Regions from separate parts of the Homo sapiens genome. Here region 2 is reported to be linked to region 1. Evidence: microRNA targets listed by miRTarBase, many of them from high-throughput screens and not tested one by one. Region 1 holds a microRNA gene; the other region holds the end of a gene's coding sequence.
What was found. The annotated mature microRNA hsa-miR-6821-3p reads UGACCUCUCCGCUCCGCACAG and lies in region 1 at 1,119-1,139, shown strand. An mRNA with a match to its seed (bases 2 to 7 or 8) in the 3' UTR can be bound and repressed. Matches are read on the target gene's strand: a 7mer-m8 pairs with bases 2 to 8, a 7mer-A1 pairs with bases 2 to 7 and ends in A, and an 8mer does both.

Region 1 (4,166 bases):
CGACTTCGACGGTGAGCGCGGGCGCGGGGCAGGGAACGTTCCGGGGGCCTTGCCGGCGGGTTAACGCCTGCAGGGGCGGCACATGGAGGGGCTGATGACTGTTGGGCGGCCGCGCGCCCTGGGTCTGCTCTCGTGGGGAGCAGAGGCCCACGCGCTACCCTGGGGAGGGCTGAGCGAGGGATCAAGAGCGGGATCGTGCTGGGTGGGGGCTAGGGGCGCGCTCAATATTGCTTCCTCCATCGCGTTGGGGGGTACGGGGCCTCTTGCCCCGGTGTGGGAGGCGCGTGACATCCTTCCGGCCCGAGAGACCCCCGGCTGGGGGCGGTAGCGGAGGAGTCTCCGTGCGTGACGCAGGGCGCAGCCGGGCTGGGTCTGCGCCGGGAGCCTGGAGGCCCCCGCGGCGCGGTTGGAGTGGCGGGGCCTCCCCTGCGTGGGGGCGGGAGCTGCGTGCGTGCGGAGCGCGGGGGCGCGGCGGCAGAAATCCCCGCATTGCGGAGCTTGGGGAAGCCGGGGCTCCCCGCCCGCCCCTCCCTCCTCCCTCCCTCTCTCCCCTCCCCCCGTTCCCGCAGGCAGGCGCGCCGGGCGGTAAGGGACCCGCGCTGTCCCCCCCCCACCCAGGTAGCCTCACAGCGCATCTGTTTGTTGTGAAAGCCGAGCTCTTACTCATGTGACCTGCTCCTCCCCCGCGGCCGGCGGAGGGGGACGGCCGGCCCCTCCCCCAGCCCCCCCATCGCCTGCCGGGGTTTTTCCAGGGTGATGACGAGCAGGATTTTGAGGCCTGGCTCTGCTTCCTGTTACTGAGGCCAGGGAGTTAACCAGCAGGGACCTCGCCGTCTGTTGAGCGGCTCTGCCTCTGTGGTGGGCGTGCTAAGCCCTGTGTCCCCTTAGGCACCCGAGTGTACAGCCCCCCGGAGTGGATCCGCTACCACCGCTACCACGGGCGCTCGGCCACCGTGTGGTCGCTGGGCGTGCTTCTCTACGATATGGTGTGTGGGGACATCCCCTTCGAGCAGGACGAGGAGATCCTCCGAGGCCGCCTGCTCTTCCGGAGGAGGGTCTCTCCAGGTGCGTGGTGGCTCGAGGCGGGGGTGGGGGCCTCGCCCTGCTTGGGCCCTCCCTGACCTCTCCGCTCCGCACAGAGTGCCAGCAGCTGATCCGGTGGTGCCTGTCCCTGCGGCCCTCAGAGCGGCCGTCGCTGGATCAGATTGCGGCCCATCCCTGGATGCTGGGGGCTGACGGGGGCGTCCCGGAGAGCTGTGACCTGCGGCTGTGCACCCTCGACCCTGATGACGTGGCCAGCACCACGTCCAGCAGCGAGAGCTTGTGAGGAGCTGCACCTGACTGGGAGCTAGGGGACCACCTGCCTTGGCCAGACCTGGGACGCCCCCAGACCCTGACTTTCTCCTGCGTGGGCCGTCTCCTCCTGCGGAAGCAGTGACCTCTGACCCCTGGTGACCTTCGCTTTGAGTGCCTTTTGAACGCTGGTCCCGCGGGACTTGGTTTTCTCAAGCTCTGTCTGTCCAAAGACGCTCCGGTCGAGGTCCCGCCTGCCCTGGGTGGATACTTGAACCCCAGACGCCCCTCTGTGCTGCTGTGTCCGGAGGCGGCCTTCCCATCTGCCTGCCCACCCGGAGCTCTTTCCGCCGGCGCAGGGTCCCAAGCCCACCTCCCGCCCTCAGTCCTGCGGTGTGCGTCTGGGCACGTCCTGCACACACAATGCAAGTCCTGGCCTCCGCGCCCGCCCGCCCACGCGAGCCGTACCCGCCGCCAACTCTGTTATTTATGGTGTGACCCCCTGGAGGTGCCCTCGGCCCACCGGGGCTATTTATTGTTTAATTTATTTGTTGAGGTTATTTCCTCTGAGCAGTCTGCCTCTCCCAAGCCCCAGGGGACAGTGGGGAGGCAGGGGAGGGGGTGGCTGTGGTCCAGGGACCCCAGGCCCTGATTCCTGTGCCTGGCGTCTGTCCCGGCCCCGCCTGTCAGAAGATGAACATGTATAGTGGCTAACTTAAGGGGAGTGGGTGACCCTGACACTTCCAGGCACTGTGCCCAGGGTTTGGGTTTTAAATTATTGACTTTGTACAGTCTGCTTGTGGGCTCTGAAAGCTGGGGTGGGGCCAGAGCCTGAGCGTTTAATTTATTCAGTACCTGTGTTTGTGTGAATGCGGTGTGTGCAGGCATCGCAGATGGGGGTTCTTTCAGTTCAAAAGTGAGATGTCTGGAGATCATATTTTTTTATACAGGTATTTCAATTAAAATGTTTTTGTACATAGTGGATAATCCTGTATTTATGGGGCTGGGCATCCTGGGGGAAGAGAGGGGCTCTGAGGAAGGGCTTTGGCTGCTGGGTGACCTGACAAGTTTCCCGTGGGGCTGGTAGTTTTGCCCACGGGGGAAACGGGGGAGGCCCAGCTGGGTGCCAGCCTCCCCAGTGCCACAGGCTACTTCATGTGGCTTGTGGCCCACCGCACTACCCCGTGCTGCACCCAGGGAGAAGAGCAGCTGCCTCCTGGGGTGCCTCTGGGAGGTGGAGGCAGGGAGCCAGGCCCTGAGGATGCAGCAACCCACACTAGTCAGGAGGTCATTCCTCGGTGGTCCCAGGAGGATCTCTGCAGCCCCCACCCAGGGAGGCCTTGCCAGTGGAAATGGCCATACTTGCATCCTGGCTTGGTGGAAACAGAGACGTGCGGGGGGGTGGGGGAGGGAGTCCATGCTGCCTCAGAGGGTGGCTGGGGGTTTTGAAGGACAGGGAGGAGTTTGCCAGGCACATGGGGTGGGAGTGTGTTCCGGGCAGTGCCAAGGACGTGCAGAGGACATGAGGGTGGGGTTTGGTGGAGGGTATCGGGGTGTTCAGTCAGTTATAGTTAGACCCTGGCCTGGCGGGTGTGTGGTGAGAGAGTGGGGTATGAACCAGGTTCGGGTGTGTCAATGGGCCTGGCCACAATGTTCCTGGTGGGTAGAGGAGGCCTGGGTGGAGGGTCCCAGTGAGACTGCTCCCCCACCCCCACCCCAGGGGCCTTCTGCTCAACTGCCCACCCTGTGCTGGGCTGTGGGGTGCCCCATGTTGGCAGTGGACCTGCACCTGGGGCATCACCCAGTCTGCCAAGCGCACCTACTCGGCTCTCTGGCTCCTGGAGCCCTGTCTGCCCCCTGCCTCCCATCTGCCCCTCCGAATAAGAGTCCCTGATAAACAGCCCGGGGCAGGCAGCACCATACTGGACAGAAGACTGTCCCAGGCCCGAGGCCAGAGGCTGTGGCAGAGGCGGGAAGTTTGGGAAAGAGAAACAGGAGGAGACGAAAGTCACCCTTCCCCTGGAGAGCAGGCAGAGAGGGCTCGGGTGGGGGGCTCCCGCCTCAGGTTGTGACTGTTCAGGACATCAGTGGGTGTTTGTGGCCTCTGCTGTGGAGATCCAGGAGCACCTGGAGGGCAGCTGCTCAGTTAGGCAGGTCTCTCGGGGCCCTCATCTCACCCTACAGCCTCAGGCCAGCAGGGGAGATGAGGAGGTGCCGGGAAGGACAAGCCACCGGTTCCCATAGACCTGGCCCAACCAGCGTGCCCTGAGTCCAGTCTGGTCCAGTGAGGCTTTTCCCATTACCCCACCCCCCACTGCCAAAATGGGACCCTCGGGCAGCAGCCATTGCGGCCCACCTGCTCCTGGGCCAACTGCCATGGGCATTCCCCAGCCCCCAGCCATGGGCATCCCCAGCCCCGGCTTCAGCCAGGCAAAGGCCCTCCACGCAGATTGCTTTTGGGAAACTGAAGGCCAGAGAGGCAGGAACCTTGGGCAGATGTCAGAATAGGACTCTGGTCCTTCCCACTGCTGTGCCCCACACACTGCTGCTGAGGGCTGGCTGGGGACCCCTCTAAGGTGGCCTACAGGGTGGGGACATCTGCCAGGGCCCTGGGAATGGGTGCAGGGCGCTGGGCTGAGGCTCCCAGCGAGATAGCTCTGGCCTTCTAGCACAGGGGATGGCGCGCTTGGGGGCGCCTCTGGACATAGCCCTCCACCCCCTGACTCAGGAGGAGACAGGGCCCAGCCAGCCTCGGGTCCTTCCTCAGGCTCTCGGCCACAGGTCATCTGCCTGACTGAGCACCACGGCCCAGGGGCGGCAGGAGCTGGTGGAGGATTCCTGTGGGCCTTTTCTGGCTCCTGGGGCGGCCCATA
Region 2 (4,095 bases), not on the chromosome of region 1:
CTTGTCCCTATTCCTCTGTATAGCTAGACCACCACTGCTGTAAGTTTAACACTGTAATATGATTTCTTCATGTGTAGGTCACCACTACAATGTAATCTCCTTGAAAGAGGCAGCCACATACAATTTACCTTGTATTTTAGCACAATGCCAGGCATATTGTGGACACTTATTAAGTAACTGCACTGTTTAAATACTACCCACCTTTCAAGGCCCAGTTAAATGTCCATTTCCACCACTTATGTTTACCTAATGAGTCCAGTCAGATTTTCTCTTCTCAGAATTCTACTACTTGACTAACCATATGCTATCTTGCATTATATGTAGAAGTGTCTCAATTAGGTTACATGTTCCTCTAGAGCAGAGATGACCTCTTACACTGTTTATCTGGCCAAAAACAGCTTATTTTTCCAACTGCAAAGCGAGTATTCAGCAGTCACTTGGGACTTAAAATATTGCAGCCCAACCACGGGAGGTCCCACTTTATCTTTACTAGTGAAGTCATCTGTCTTTAATAAAATTCAGCTAACAGCTTATCTCCTGACTCTCCTTCCCTTAGCTTAGCTACTGGAACTCTGCTTAGAACTATAAATCTGCCTGTATTTGTGTGCTGCTGTCATATCTCAGGTTCCCCAGGATGGAAGAGATCTTTCTTTTTAATCTCCCTCAAGACCCAGTAGAGGGCATTATACAGACGAGGGCTGCTTGTGTGGGTGCTGTTGGCTCACTGTGGATATATCCTCAATGGCAACTCTCCAAGTTATTTTTCTTTGCCTGTCTTTGATATGCCCAGCCCACACCAGCTTAAAATAAAAGCTGTTGGACAGTAACGGTGACTTCATCCCTGCCACCCTGTATATTAGATGGCTCAGCTTAGTGGCTTGTCAGCACAATCAGGTTGGAGGAGTGGAAGAACCTTTGATTCAACTCTTTGGGATAAAGACTTTAGAATACATCTAGCTAAAATAATGAGCAGGAATAACTATTAGAAGCATTGCAGAATCAGTTTGCTTTGCTTGCCTAGCCCTACAGTATGGGAGTGAAGGAGATGGACTGTCAAGTTTTAAAATGGGATACATCCTGCCAAGTGTGCAGTGGTGAAGAACTAAAAGGAAAAAAAAAAGGCTAAGGAGTAACATGAAATACAGATAGCCCCAAACATTTTTGGCACCCCAGGCTTCTTAAGGCCACAAATTAAAATTGAGGACCAGGGAAGCCAGGAATAGTGGGAAGAAATAATATAAAAGCCTAAGATACTAACTCAAGCTCTTCAGCTAACTAGCTTTTCTACTTTACAAGTAACTTATCTCTATACCTTAATTTCCTCACTTGTATTAAAATGAAATTGCACTAACTGCTGGGTGTAGTGGTTCACACCTGTAATCCCTGCACTTTGGGAGGCTGAGGTGGAAAGACTGCTTGAGGCCAGGAGTTCAGGAGCAGCCTACACAACAAAACGAGATCCTCTCTACAAAAGAAAGGATGAAAATATATTCTCAGCCAGGCGCAGTGGCTTATGCCTGTAATCCCAGCACTTTGGGAGGCTGAGATGGGAAGAGTGCTTAAGCCTGTGTTCTGAGACTCACCTGGACAACATGGTGAATCCTCATCTCTACAAAAAATAATTAGCCAGGTGTGGTGGTGTGTGCTTGTAGTCCCAGCTACTTGGGAGGCTGAGATGGGAAGATTACTTGAGCCCAGGAGGTTGAGGCTACAGTGAGTGTTTGCACCCTGCACTCCATTCTGGGTGACTGAGCAAGATCCTGCCTCTAAAAAAAAAAAAAAAAAGAAAGAAAGAAAGAAATTGAATGATCCCACATTCAGCCTCATAGACCTCACCTCATTCCCCAGCTGGCAAACACAAACCAGGGATAACATACTCAGGAGGAAATCATGGGATGGCTCACTAACCCCACCACAATAAACACCATTAACTTGTGTCTCTAGTTTAAATTTGTACTTGTTTTATTTTATTCATTTATTTTTTTTAGATGGAGTCTCGCTCTGTCGCCCAGGCTGGAGTGCAATGGCACAATCTCGGCTCACTGCAAACTCTGCCTCCTGGGTTCAAGCGATTCTCCTACCTCAGCCTCCCAAGTAAGTGGGATTATAGGCATGTGCCGCCACGCCCGGCTAATTTTTGTATTTTTAGTAGAGATGGGGTTTCACCATGTTGGCTAGGCTGGTCTCAAACTCCTGACCTCAAGTGATCCACCCACCTTGGCCTCCCAAAGTGCTGGAATTATAGGCGTGAGCCACCGTACACCCGCTGGAGTTTTTTCTCCTTTGGTAACCTTTCTTTTGTACGTTACATTCACAGGCAGCTTTTAACTTCTTTCAGTAGCAGGTTTCCAGCAATGCAGATTGGCACATCATGAGGAAAGAAATCACTCTGCCTCCTGCTGGCCACCAGCAGAAAGACTTGAGTTTCTTTTGGCTTATTACAAAGAAATAATATATTTCTTTTGGTTTGTCACATTTCTCCCTCACAAACATGGGAACTTGAAAAGGAATGGAAGACAGAGGGAAAAGGAGACTGGGCCTCCTTTTCTGCTAAACCTGGACTAGGCTTAGGTGTCAAGAAACCATTTAGATCAAATATCTTAAATGCCTCATTTTGTGAGCCACAAACTGAGGTTGATGCACCTTCTACATTGGTTACAGAAACAAAGGGATGGGCAAGGTTTATGCCAACATTCCTGCTCCCTTTCCTAAGTGATGGTATTGGGGAACTCAGCCGCATCTCACATTAACAATGTCTTCAGTATTGTTTTCTTCCCCCTCCCAAACCCCAATAAAACACACCAACTGCTTCAGAATATTTCTGGGTTGGGTTTTTTCATGGGTTTTTGTTTTGTTTATTTCGAATACTGAAAAAGTCCTTTGGGCTCTGTGGGGTTCCCCACGCTCACGGCTCCTTTCTCCCACACTCACTGCCCTTCTTCCCACAGCAAATCTATTTCAAGGACAGTACTTTTTAAAATGATTAATGTTGAGTTCTCAACTAGCTCTGCAGAACTAGAGGAGCTGTTTGCATCTGTCTGTGCGGATGGAGTTTCTTTTATCTGACACCAGGTCTCCAACCACACTGAAACAAGGCATTTATCTACAGAGCTCAACTAGAACCCCTTTTCATTAGGCTACTCCACTTCCTTCCCCTCATACCTACCCCACATCAGCCACGTGGTTAAGAAGGATAGTCAGGAATGTTTTTACCAACTCCAAGCCCTAATTCATACTCCTCCATATCTCCCACCCCACCCTTTCAACCCCACCCCCACCCCCAGAATTTCATTGATATTTCTCCCAACTGTTATTTGGAAAAAAGGTAAAACAAAAAAGGTTCAAGGTCTTGGTGCTCAGCCCAAGGGGCTCCATGTGCTGGGACACCAACAGGAAAGGGCTTCTGCCTCTCCAGCCCACACCCGAGCCACCTCCTGACCCCTGGCTGCAAAAGCAGGAAGGGGCAGGAGCCAGCACAGGACCCGGGTGGGGCAGGGAGGGGAAGCGTCTCAGGATCTGGCAGAGCCCCGGGCAGCATCATTCAACTTGGCCACTGCGGACGAACACAGAAGAAAAAAAAAAAAAACAACACTGTCAAGTAATAGGGGAAAAAAACCCTGAACTCCAACCCAGTCTCTACCCCATGATTCCTCCACATTTAACAACCATTAGGCTACCTGGCATGTCTCAATCCTATCCATAAGGGAGTTGCAAAAAAAATCAAAAAATAGAATTTCAGTCTTTTCCTATCCACGAAACAACGTTATCTGCCTTTCTGGGATATCCATGGATAACAAACATAGAAAAATAATTCTTTAGATAAGATCAAAATAACTGGAGGTTTCCAGGTGGGTAAGCTGCCTGGCTCAGAGCAGGCTGTTTCAGAGGCATGGCCACAGCTACTTGCAAAGACTGAGGTAGCACAGAGATGAGGTGGTGACTGTGTGGAGGCCAGAACCAGACCACACACATGCTGTTCTGAATGGATTTAATAATCTAGGTTTAATCAAAGCAATTTGCATTTGGATTTTGGAATGACCACTCCTTGCTAAGGAAGCTATGTACTTCATGCTGTGGAAACTGGCAAATACAGAA

Region 2: the mRNA of ENSA is a reported target of hsa-miR-6821-3p. The part of its 3' UTR that is shown has no 7-base or 8-base seed match.

The regions. Positions count from the first base shown.
Region 1 is chr22:49,961,801-49,965,966 of GRCh38, forward strand. It overlaps MIR6821 (microRNA 6821), which reads left to right and starts at 1,066; the gene lies at 1,066-1,139. It overlaps PIM3 (Pim-3 proto-oncogene, serine/threonine kinase), which reads left to right. Exons shown (of 6, transcript NM_001001852.4): 4 at 1-11; 5 at 889-1,065; 6 at 1,140-2,272. The coding sequence ends at 1,327. RefSeq lists silencers at 135-184, 315-834 and an enhancer at 3,408-3,908.
Region 2 is chr1:150,619,307-150,623,401 of GRCh38, forward strand. ENSA (endosulfine alpha) reads right to left here. Exons shown (of 4, transcript NM_004436.4): 4 at 2,819-3,553. The coding sequence ends at 3,538. Among named protein-coding and RNA genes, the nearest start is that of ENSA, 8.3 kb to the right of the region's middle. RefSeq lists a silencer at 3,347-3,641.